Linked DNA regions of Homo sapiens: region 1 is linked to region 2. The links come from fine-mapping of genetic effects on gene expression. A gene starts in region 2. The other region holds a variant in brackets. All regions are shown on one strand. Distances are from middle to middle.

Region 1 (5,367 bases), 59 kb before region 2:
GAAAAACCAGTGTTCCAGGAAGTTTTCCATTACTTGTAGCCAAACTGACACCCTGTCCGCCAGTGGCCACCATGAGCTCTAGTAGACAAACTGATCTCCTGCTGCAAATCCCTCCCACGGCTTTACAGACACTGCTTGAAGCCGAAAGCTCTCAGCATTTACTGTCCTTTATGGTCCAGCCTGAGGACTCCCGGTGGCCTGTCTCTACTGCTGCCAGACCACTGGACCACACACCCCATTTCCCAACGTCCTCGCCTGTGTGTTAGTTCACACTGTTCTCTGCACCACTGTTGCCTGGTGGGGTTTTACCCCATCCCAATCCCACCTCCCATGTGAGAGAAACACCCTCAATAACCGGTCCCCACAACTGCCAGAAGAGACCCTCAAACTCCCCATGGGGTCCACCTCACCCACAGTCAAACCACAGTCCTTCCGATGATGGCCAGGAGCCCTGACATCTCTCTGGGCTCAGCTCCACCTGCCCCCTGTCACTCGATGCACTCCAGCCACACAGCCTAGACATGCCAAGCAGGCTCTGACCCCAGGGCCTTTGCATGTGCTGCACTCTGCCTGAAAGCATTTCACAGACATCCCCCACCCCGGGCATTGCACAAATGTCCCCTCCTCAGTGAGGCTGTCCCTGGCCACTGTCAGCTGATACTGCAGTCCCTCCCCAGCCCTGACACTACTTATCCCACCTCTCCTTAAGTTTTTCTCCTTAGCACAATCGCCTGCAACCACGCCAGGTGCTAAAATATTCATCGTGATCTTCCTCTGTCTTCCTGGCCAGAAAGAAATCCCTGGGAGGGCGGGAATTGCCATCTGTGTTACTCACTGCTACATCCCTGATGCCCAGGGCACACAGTGGTGCTCTACAAATATTCTGTGAATTAATTGGTCAGTATAATAACTGATGATGTTTTCTGCGCAGATTAAGAGTCCTTCCACCCCAGGCGTGAGGGTCACTCCCAGGAGGAGCCCCAAGGACAGCCTAACTTCTTGGGCCACGAGGACCTTCAGGCCCAGGCCAGCCTCCCGCCCCGCCCCACCCCACCCTGCCTTGAAGGCCACAGGTCAGGCTTGCCTTGTACAGGGAGATGCCGCAGCTGTCGTTGTCCTCAGCCCCACAGGTCTCACCCTCCTTGGCTCCCAGGACGCCGGCCATGCAGCTCTTCTCCTGCAAGTAGGAGACACAGCAGTGCCTCTGGGCTGTCCTGAAACAGAGGGGGTAACTTAGCCCCCAGTCGCCCACCTCATCCTCCCAGAGTGGAAAGTGAGTGAGGCTCAGAGGAGGGAAGCTCTGCCCAAGGTCCACAGCAAGGGAGCCGGTGCAGGTGGCAGAGCCGGCACAACCTCCACTGGGTTGCATGGGTTTCATTTCTTGGCTTAACCATGCAGATGCAGGCCTGGGTCCCACTAGACTCGGAGATGTGTGTTCATGACCTCTGAGAGAGAGGGGTTGGCATCAGAGTCCCCACCCCCACAACGGTCGGGGAGGACAGAGAGACCTAATCCCAGAAAAGGCTGGCAGGTCAGCCTGGAGGAGCACAGCCTCCGGGTCCCTGGTCACTGCCTGCCAGTCACTGTTGGGCTGCCTGGGGCAGAGGTGGCTGACAAATCAGCTGCAGAGACCAGAGCCAGGACAGGGCGGCGGGGATTACGGGGGACAGGGCTCAGCACCCCCTGAAGTGGGACACGTCCACAAGACGGATGCAAGCATGCACTAGGACCGCTTAGCCCCAAACTCCAGGGGTCCCAGTGCTGCATGCTCTAACTCCTAAGTTGCCCCATATTGGTAGAATGGCTGAAGGGAAAGACAAGGTTAGAACATAAATTTTTTTTATAGGAAGCAGAGTGGTCTGGACATTGGGAAACATGGGGTCTAATCCCAGCCATGCTGCCAGTGAGCTGTGTAGTTTTGAGTGAATCACACTGCCTCTCTGAACTTAATCTTTCTTATTTGGAAAAATGAGTAGGTTAGACGGGGTCCCTGGAAAAAAACAAAGCATGAGCAGCTGACCAAGAGCTCTCCTGGGCCTGGAAAAGGGAAGGCATGGGGATAAAGGATTGCTTTGCTGTGGTATCAGAGTCAGAAGAAACAACCAGCACAGCAGCAAGGGAGCACAGTGAGAGGCCAGCCTCCTGAAGACCCAAGGGTAGCAAAGCAGAGAAAGGAAGAGGGCAGAGGAGAGAAAGCCTGAGTGGCATGAGTGCGGCAGCAACTGCAGAATGTGGTGAGGGGAGCACCCGACTATTCCTAGGGGACAGCACTCCTTTAAAACTTGTTTCAAATTGTACATTCCTCGGATCTTGCTCACTAGGCCAGCTACCAATTTATGTGGCTGGTTTGTTCCTAGGACCAGTCTTGGACTTTCCACCCCTGGAGAAAGCCTGGCCAGATGGCGCACGGCAGCCACACCCAATCACCCTCATGCCCCAGAGGCATGTGAAGGTGCACTCTCTCCGGGCTGCCTGGAGCCTGGGGTCCTAGGCAAGCAGGGTTCTGGAGAAGGCAAATGGGCAGCTCCGCCTGCTCCAGGGAGCCCACCCTACCTGCAGACGTTGTCCTCAGTGCCACTCTCAGGGATCTCCAGGCACTCGTCATTGTCAATGGCCCACTGCTGTCCGGCTGCGCAGCAAGTCTCGATCAGGTCCTTGGTGGAGCCTGTGGATAGCAACATGAGGCAGAGTCACCATTCATAAGTCACCAAGTCCAGCAGATATGCAGGGGCCTGTCCAGGTCTCCTTTACTGGGCAGGCAAACTCATCCACCCCTGCTGCTGTGCATGCTGGTCGCTAACAGCTCACAACACAACTGTCTTTGGTGAACTGTCTGCGAGGTGGAGTCCTCCCTATGGGGGCTGGGAGGAGCCCAGCCCATAACAGG[T/C]TAACATGGGGCCAGAGCTCAGCCCCCACTCTCAAAGCAGCCAGTTCTATGGGGGCCACTCACACTCTAGAGCTCCCACAGGGTCAGACCTCACGTGGGCCACAGCTTTGTCCACCTCTCATCCCTCACTCCTCAGAGTTTCTCCTGAGAGGTCTCCCCAAATGAACCAACACATGCACAAGACCCCCCAACTCAGGCTCTGCTTCTAAGGAACCCAACCTAAGATGCTAAGACAGGGCAAGAGATACGAAAACAGCAGCAGTGGCAGCAAGGGAAGTTTAAGCTCATCCAGGAAATTCACGGAAGTTTTATGTTGAATACACACTTGACCCCTGGAACAACACAGCAGTTTCTTCCACCTCTGCAACCCCTAAGACAGCAAGACCAGCCCCTCCTCCTCCTCCCCCTCCTAAGCCTACTCAGCCTGAAGACAGTGAGGATGAAGACCTTTATGATGGTCCACTTCCACTGCATGAATAGTAAACATATTTTCTCTTACGATTTTCTTAATAACATTTTTTTTTCTCAAGCTTACTTTAAGAATACAGAATATAGGCTGGGTGCGGTGGCTCATGCCTGTTATCCCAGCACTTTGAGAGGCTGAGGCGGGCAGATCACGAGGTCAGGAGTTCAAGACCAGCCTGGCCAACAGGGTGAAACCCTGTCTCTACTAAAAATACAAAAATTAGCCAGGCACGGTGGCAGGCACCTGTAATCCCAGCTACTCAGGAGGCTGAGGCAGGAGAATTGCTCGAACCTGGGAGGCAGAGGTTGTAGTGAGCCGAGATTGTGCCACTGCACTCCAGCCTGGGTGACAGAGCAAGACTCCGTCCCGGGGAAAAAACAAACAAACAAACAACAACAAGAAAAGAATACAGAATATAGTCAGCCGGGCACGGTGGCTCATGCCTGTAATCCCAGCACTTTGGGAGGCCTAGGCAGGAGGATCACCTGAGTTCAGGAGTTTGAGACCAGCCTGACCAACATGGAGAAACTCCGTCTCTACTAAAAATACAAAAAATCAGCCAGGCATGGTGGCGCATGCCTGTAAACCCAGCTACTCGGGAGGCTGAGGCAGGAGAATCACTGGAACCTGGGAGGCGGAGGTTGTGGTGAGCTGAGATCATTCCACTGCTCTTCAGCCTGGGCAATAAGAGTGAAACTCCATCTCAAAAAAAAAATACAGTATATAATATATATAACATATAAAATATGTGTTAATTGACTATTTGTGCTATCAGTAAGGCTTCCTGTCAACAGTCAGCTATTAGTTAAGTTTTTGAGGAGTCAAAAGTTACATGTGGATTCTTGACTGTTAGTCGGGTCAGCACCCCTCACTCCTGAGTTGTTCAAGGTTCAACTGTATTTGTGACTGGGGAGGCTGGAAGGAGTCAAAGGTAGGGGAGAATGTCTTAAAACTCAAAGGCACAGGCTATAGGTTACAAAAATTAATGAATTTGATTACCTCAAAATTCCAATATGTATAACAAAGAACTCCATGTACACATATAATAGACTGCTGACATATTAAGAAATGTTTCTGGAATGTCCAAAACTGACAAGGAATTGCCATCTACAAAACATAATAAACTCCTGAAAATTAACAAGAGAAAAAAGAACTCCAAAGTAAAATACTCCTTAGGCCAGATGTGGTGGTTCACGCCTGTATCCCAGCATTTTGGGAGGCTAAGGTGGGTTCATCACTTGAGCTCAGGAGTTCGAGACCAGCCTGGACAACATGGCGAATCTCCAACTCCACAAAAAGTTAGCCTAGCTACTCGGGAAGCTGGGGTGGGAGGATGGCTTGAGCCCAGGGATGGGGAGGGGGGTTGGAGGTTGCAGTGAGCTGAGATGGAGCCACTGCACTCCAGCCTGGGTGACAGAATGAGACTCTGTCTCAAAAAATAATAATAAAATATCCATTAAACTAGAAATATGAGTAAGAGTGAGAAATGCCACACAGAGGTGGGGACCCCCTTTTCTCCCTTAGTGCTGTATTCCTCTACACTGCTGCATGTCCATGTGTCTAGGGTGGGAGAGGAGACTGCGGCCAGCTGGAGAGATGTGGCACCACTTATACAGTTAAGCACACGCAACATCAAGGACCCAGACGCTCTGCTCCTGGTGTCTGTGCCAGGGAAGTCCTCACGACAGCCCGTAACACAACCAGTACAAGGATGCCCATGTCAAGTGTTATTTGTGGAAAGGGGTTGCGGACAGCCTGGGTGTCCATCACTGGGGGGGAGGATGAGGAAAATCTGGGGCCATGCTACATGCAGGAGCTGTCAGAAACAATAGACTGGATACACACACAGCAGCATGAGCTGGACACACCAACACACAGAAGTGTGGAGGAACACAGCACTAAGGGAGAAAAGGAAGAAGCCAAATCAGTTCTACTATACAAATTTAAACTATCACACATAAAATAACAATGCATACTTTGCAAGAACACATGACAGCAAAAAACACACTGATGA
Region 2 (5,367 bases):
GCACGGTGGCTCACACCTGTAATCCCAGCACTTTGGGAGACTGAGGCGGGCGGATCACGAGGTCAAGAGATGGAGGTCAAGTGGCTGTGCAATCTTCACCTTAGGCCCGAATTTGCTGCAGAGAACCCAGTTTCACTTACCATCAGCATGCCCCAAGCATTTACGAAGCACCTATTGCGTGTGAGGTGTGGATGGGCTCAGGGCACTCCCCCCACGGCCAAGGAGACCAAGTCCTCCCACTAGTGGCTCAGTAAGAGGGGCAAAGAGCTTTGCTTTGGAGGGAAAAGATCCTGGGCTGAACCCCAGCTCTCCCCCTTGCCTGCTGGGAGGCCCTTTCTCTACCTCCCCTTCCCCGTCTCTTAAATAGGTGCAAGAGTTCCACCCTGCAGGAGGGATGTCGGGATCTGGGAAGAAAAGTGATGAATAAAGCCTGCCTCGGAGAATGCTCTCTGGCATGAGCTCTTGCTTCACGGGGTCCCCATACCACCGTCCCCCACAGCCTAGCAGGAAGTGTCTGCCACCATCACAAAGATGCCCTGTGGCCCAGGGCCCTGGGCACCACTCATTGCTTCAACGACTAAGGCCTCGAAGGGTAGGAGGCCCGCCCAGGGCTTCCCCAGCCATGCATGGAGGACCAGCCTGGGCCTATGCTTGAGGCGGGCAATGGAGCAAAATCAGCCCAATGCATGCAGCAGTCACAGCCGCACAAAGGCCACGCAGGCCAGGCAGGAGCTGAGAAGGCATGAGAGGGCCAGGTGGGGACGGGGACCAAACAGCGCCCCTGCCCCATCCCCTGGGTTGGGGGTGGGCAGCACCAGCCAGGAGATGCAGATCCTGAACTACCAGACCTTGTGACTTTTCAAGAGAAGACGGAAATCCGGACTTTTACGTGAAAACTGCCAATTTGTAAATGCAGGCAGCTAATTAATTTTTTAAAATAATAATAACATGGTGAGAGCCAAACAAAACATGCAGGGCCAGCCACAGCCGGGGCTGGCAGGTTTGTGCCTCCAGAATAAGATTCTTTGACTTCATCCCCTGCTCACCCCCATCACACAGCTCAGCTGCAGAAGGGGAGGGCGGGAAGTCAAGGGTGCACCCCAGGGGAGTAGCTCCCCCTCCCTCTCTTCCTCCTGCTGGGGAGTCTTCACCCCATTTGGCATATGGGGAAGTTAAGGCCCAGAGCCCCTATCAGCCACAAACACACACCAGCTCCCAATCCATGCCAGGCTGAGGGAACACTTCTCAGCTGCCACCCAATTCATCAGGGCTCCCTCTGGGAGGGCCCGGACCAGCATCTCAGGGGCATCAGGGTAGACACAAGCACCCAAACCATCCTGTTTGACTTCCCTTTTTCTCTTTTTGGCCTGTCAGGGGACGCCTGCTGGCTCAGGCCTGCTTGGGACTGGCCCAAGTGATCACTGCAAAGCTGATATGGGCAACTCCTTGTGGCAGCAAAAAAGGGAGGGAGGGCACCCCTATTTCGGAGACTGGAGCAGGGGAAGGGAGAGAGGATGCACGGAGGTGAGGAGTCAGGCCCAGCCTGAGGCTGAGCCACCCCCATGCTCCCCACAGCCACCCAGGTCCCATGGTAAGCAGCCTCTGTCAGGAGGAACCACCTCCCTCCTCCAAAATCGGCTCCCCACCCCCTAGGACAGGGGAGGACTGCCCATGGAGTGCCAGGGGGGCTGGGACTGTGAAGTCGTGGGGGTCTGTGACTCGTATGTGAGACTCACAGTGTGTGGCACTCCCAGTGTTTGTGATTCCAGGTATTTGAGGAGCACACGCATGTGAGAGACACATGTGTGATACATATGATGGAGATATGCATGTGATAGCTACCCCTGTGTGGCGGACGTGTGTGCGTGTCAGAGGGCAGTAAGGGCACATGTGTTTATCAGAGACACAACTGTCTGCTAGAGGCATGCCTCGGAGGGGTGCCAATGTGCAAGGCATGTGTGTGTGGAGCATTGTGTGCTAAGGGGACGTGAGATGAGTGTGAGAGATTCTGGCCTGGGGGAGCTGGCGGGGTGAGCATGGGGCTGGGAGAGGGAGGATGTGGTGACAGGCAGGGTGGGCGCGCCAATGCAGAGCGTGCAGAAACTTCTGCTTGTGTGAGTGCGTGTGTGGCGGTGAGTGTGACTTGGGGGTGATGGAGGGGGTAGTGTTAGACCAGGGACTCTAGTCTTCTTTCCCCGAGGGGGTTGACCCGGCCCTCTGGACTGGAGGGGCGGCAAGGTCCTGCGGTCGGGGTGGGGGTGGGCAGTGGGACCAGAGGGGATGACTGGTGGGAGCCGGCCCAGGGGGGAGAAGTGAAACCCAGAGCGGAGGAAGCTGCGGACCTGGGGTGGGGGAACCCGCCCGCGGACCCCTGGCCCCCACCCCGCGCCGGCCTCTGTGCCCGCATCTGTACACTGGGTCGCGGCGCTCGCGGGCCGTCCCCGCGCTGGGACCGGGAGAGCGAGACCCGGTCGGACCGGCGGCGCGGGTGGAGGCGCGGGCAGCCCGCGAGGCGCGTCCGAGGGTCCGCCGAGCCGTCGGTGCGTCCGAGCGCCCCCGAGTCCTGAGCTGCGAGGCGCGGACCGACGGGGATGAGTCCGGGCGGGAGGGGCCGCGTGCACTCACCGCGGGGCACTGCGCTCGGCGTCCGTCCGTCCGTCCGCCCGGCCGTCGGCGCGTCGAGAGCCCGGGCGGCCCCTGGCTGTGTGCGCGCGGGGCGGGGCGGAGGCGCGAGAGGCGGGACCAGCCGGCCCCCGGCCCCCTCCCCTGACTCCGCCTCCGCCTCCGGGGCGGGGTCTCGGCCGCCCGCCGGAGAGGGGGCCGGGCCGGCGCCGCTCGCTCAGAGCCCAGACTCGCTGACCCGGCTCCTAGAGGCCGCCCGGCGCGCTCGCTGCGGAGCCCGCACCCTCCCTGCGCCCGGCCTAACCTCTGAGTGCCAGACCTGGCACTGCTGCCCACAGGGCAGGGCCAGGGGTTGGGGTCCGGCCACCTCAGCCAGCCTGAGCCTCAGTGATCACCCCTGGAAGATGGGCCCAGCAGCCTTGGGCACATTGTGAGGGCCTGAGGGGCCCGGCTACAAAACTGCCCAGAGGCCAGGCCCTGCCTCCCACCCGCCTTGCTTCCTACCCTGGGGGCCTGCCTGCAGCCCCACTGCTGCTGCATGTGCCTGGGCAGACGGTACTGAGCCCCCAGCTTTGGAACAGGTTCAGTTTGTCCTTTTCCTCAGCCCAGCTCTGATGCCTGTGACCACTGTGTGACCCCCGGGGTGTCTCTTCCCCCAGCCCACACCGATCCCTTTCTGGGTCTCTTTCGGGGTCTCCATCTCTGATCTAATGTCATCTCTCTGTCTCCCTTGGTTTGTCCCTCTTGGTCTCTGCATCTCCCTCTGACTTTATCTCTTGGTCTCTGTGTCTCTCTGAGTCTCTCCCATCCCTGTCCAGAGACGTATGGCCTGGTGGTCACCACCTCACATCTGAGCAGCAGCCATGGGCCCAAAGTGTGCCTGCCCCCACCCCCAGGGGTCTCCCTGCAGCCCAGGACAGGGGTGAGGCAGCCAAGAGCAAAGGCACAGGGCAGGGCAGCTGCCTGCCCAGGGCCGCACAGCAGAGAGGAGGTGGAGCCAGGAAGGGCCCATTGGCTTAGATGGGGCCACCCACAGAGAAGCCAGGAGCGGATGGAGGGGCCAAAGCCTGAGCTGGCAGCCTGTGCCTGGCCTGCCCCAACTTGTGTCTAACCCCAGGCAGGTGCCTTCCCTCTGGGCCCGTTTCCCCATTGGAGCTCTGTGCTTGCTGTTCCCTCAGGGCCTTTGCCATTGCTGTTCCCTCTGCCTGGGATGCTCTTCCCCAGATCCACCGTGGCTGACTCATCCCTGCATTAAGATGCAGCTGAAATCCCACCACCCCCAGAGAAGCCCTCCCTGAGACCCCAGCAGAGGTAGCAACTACCACTCTCCACCCTGGGACTCGGCCGCACTGTTATTACAGTACTTGTCACTGGCTGATTTCTCTTATTCATTTATAAATGACTATAGGTAGGATCACCTGGTCATTAAGAAAGTCACCACACACCAGCTGTGTGACCTTGGGCAAGTTACTTCACCTCTCTGGGCTTTATTTCCTCAACTGTAAAATGAACATAACGACATCAAAGCCTATCTTATAATGTTATTGGAAAGATCAAATGAACCGAAATGAGCCAAACCGAAAGTACAGATGCTCCTCGATTATAATGGGATCATGTCCCCATAAACCCATCGTAAATCGAAAATATAGTAAGTTGAAAATGCATTTCATCCACCTAACCTACAGAACATCATAGCTCAGCCAAGCCTACCTTAAATGTGCTCAGAACACTTCCATTACTAGCCTACGGGTGGGCAAAATCATCTAATACAAAGCCTATTTTATAATGAAGCATTGAATATCTCATGTAACTCATTGAATACTGCACAGAAAGTGAAAAACAGAATGATTGCCTGGGGATTCCAAGTAGGGTTTCTCCTGGGTGTGTACCACTTTCTCAACATCCTAAATTCAAAAAATCCTAAATCGAACCATCGTAAGTCAGGGATTATCTGTACTTTGGATGGGACTTGACCCAAGGGAGTGCTCAGTAAATATCTGATGAGTAAATGACAGATTGAATCCTTCCTCCTGTGGGGGAAGGAGGGGCAGTGGCCTGGGGTGATAGAGACCCTGGGCAGCTGCTAATGAGGCTCCCTTCCCCAGGCCTGGGAGGAGAGGCACTGAGCCAGATGCAGCTCACTCTGCAGCCCAGGGAGCCCAAGGCCTGGCCCGCCTTCCACAAGATAAAGTGGAGACACTTCTCCCGTCCTGTTATCTGAGCCGGAGATGCGGCCAAAGCGGCTGTCCCTTCAGAGCCCTTCCAAGACTGTTATCGCAGACAGAGCACGCATCACCCACCAGGAATTTGGGGCCCAGGGCCTGGCTGAGAAATGGTTGGAGGAAGTCAGGCTGATAAGGCCTAGACAGAATGATCACAGTGGGCAGCGAAGTTATTTACATCAGTGACAATCTCACCAGCTCCCTGGGCACTGAGGCGCCAGGGCCAGCAGGCATGAGGCTCACTTGTCCCACCTGTGCAGCCTGGATTGGGAAGAGAAGCCTTGCTGAGCTTCCTGGGTCTGCATCCTCACTGGGTAGCCTTGGGGAGGCTGCCTACGTTGGAGCATGGGTTCTGGGACCCAATGGCTTTGATTTAAATCCACATCCTCCCTGTATGACCTTCAGCAGGTGGCTTCAACCCTCTGGCCTCAGTGTCCTAGCCTATAAAGAAGTTCCTGCCTTATAGGATTGTTTTGAAGTTAAGATGCTTACAGCAGTGTCTGGTATATCATAAGCCCTCCAT

What was found. PIP is the estimated chance that this variant, and not a neighbour inherited with it, causes the effect.
Region 1: its variant is the best candidate, but not a certain one, in a credible set for the expression of FBLN2 in tibial artery (GTEx, PIP 0.89).

What each region holds. Positions count from the first base shown.
Region 1 is chr3:13,605,360-13,610,726 of GRCh38, reverse strand. It overlaps FBLN2 (fibulin 2), which reads right to left. Exons shown (of 18, transcript NM_001004019.2): 3 at 2,554-2,665; 4 at 1,085-1,214. Among named protein-coding and RNA genes, the nearest start is that of SNORA93, 10 kb to the left of the region's middle. The variant T/C (reference allele first, on the strand shown) is at 2,888.
Region 2 is chr3:13,546,467-13,551,833 of GRCh38, reverse strand. FBLN2 (fibulin 2) reads right to left here and starts at 2,709. Exons shown (of 18, transcript NM_001004019.2): 1 at 2,626-2,709. RefSeq lists enhancers at 131-737, 738-1,346.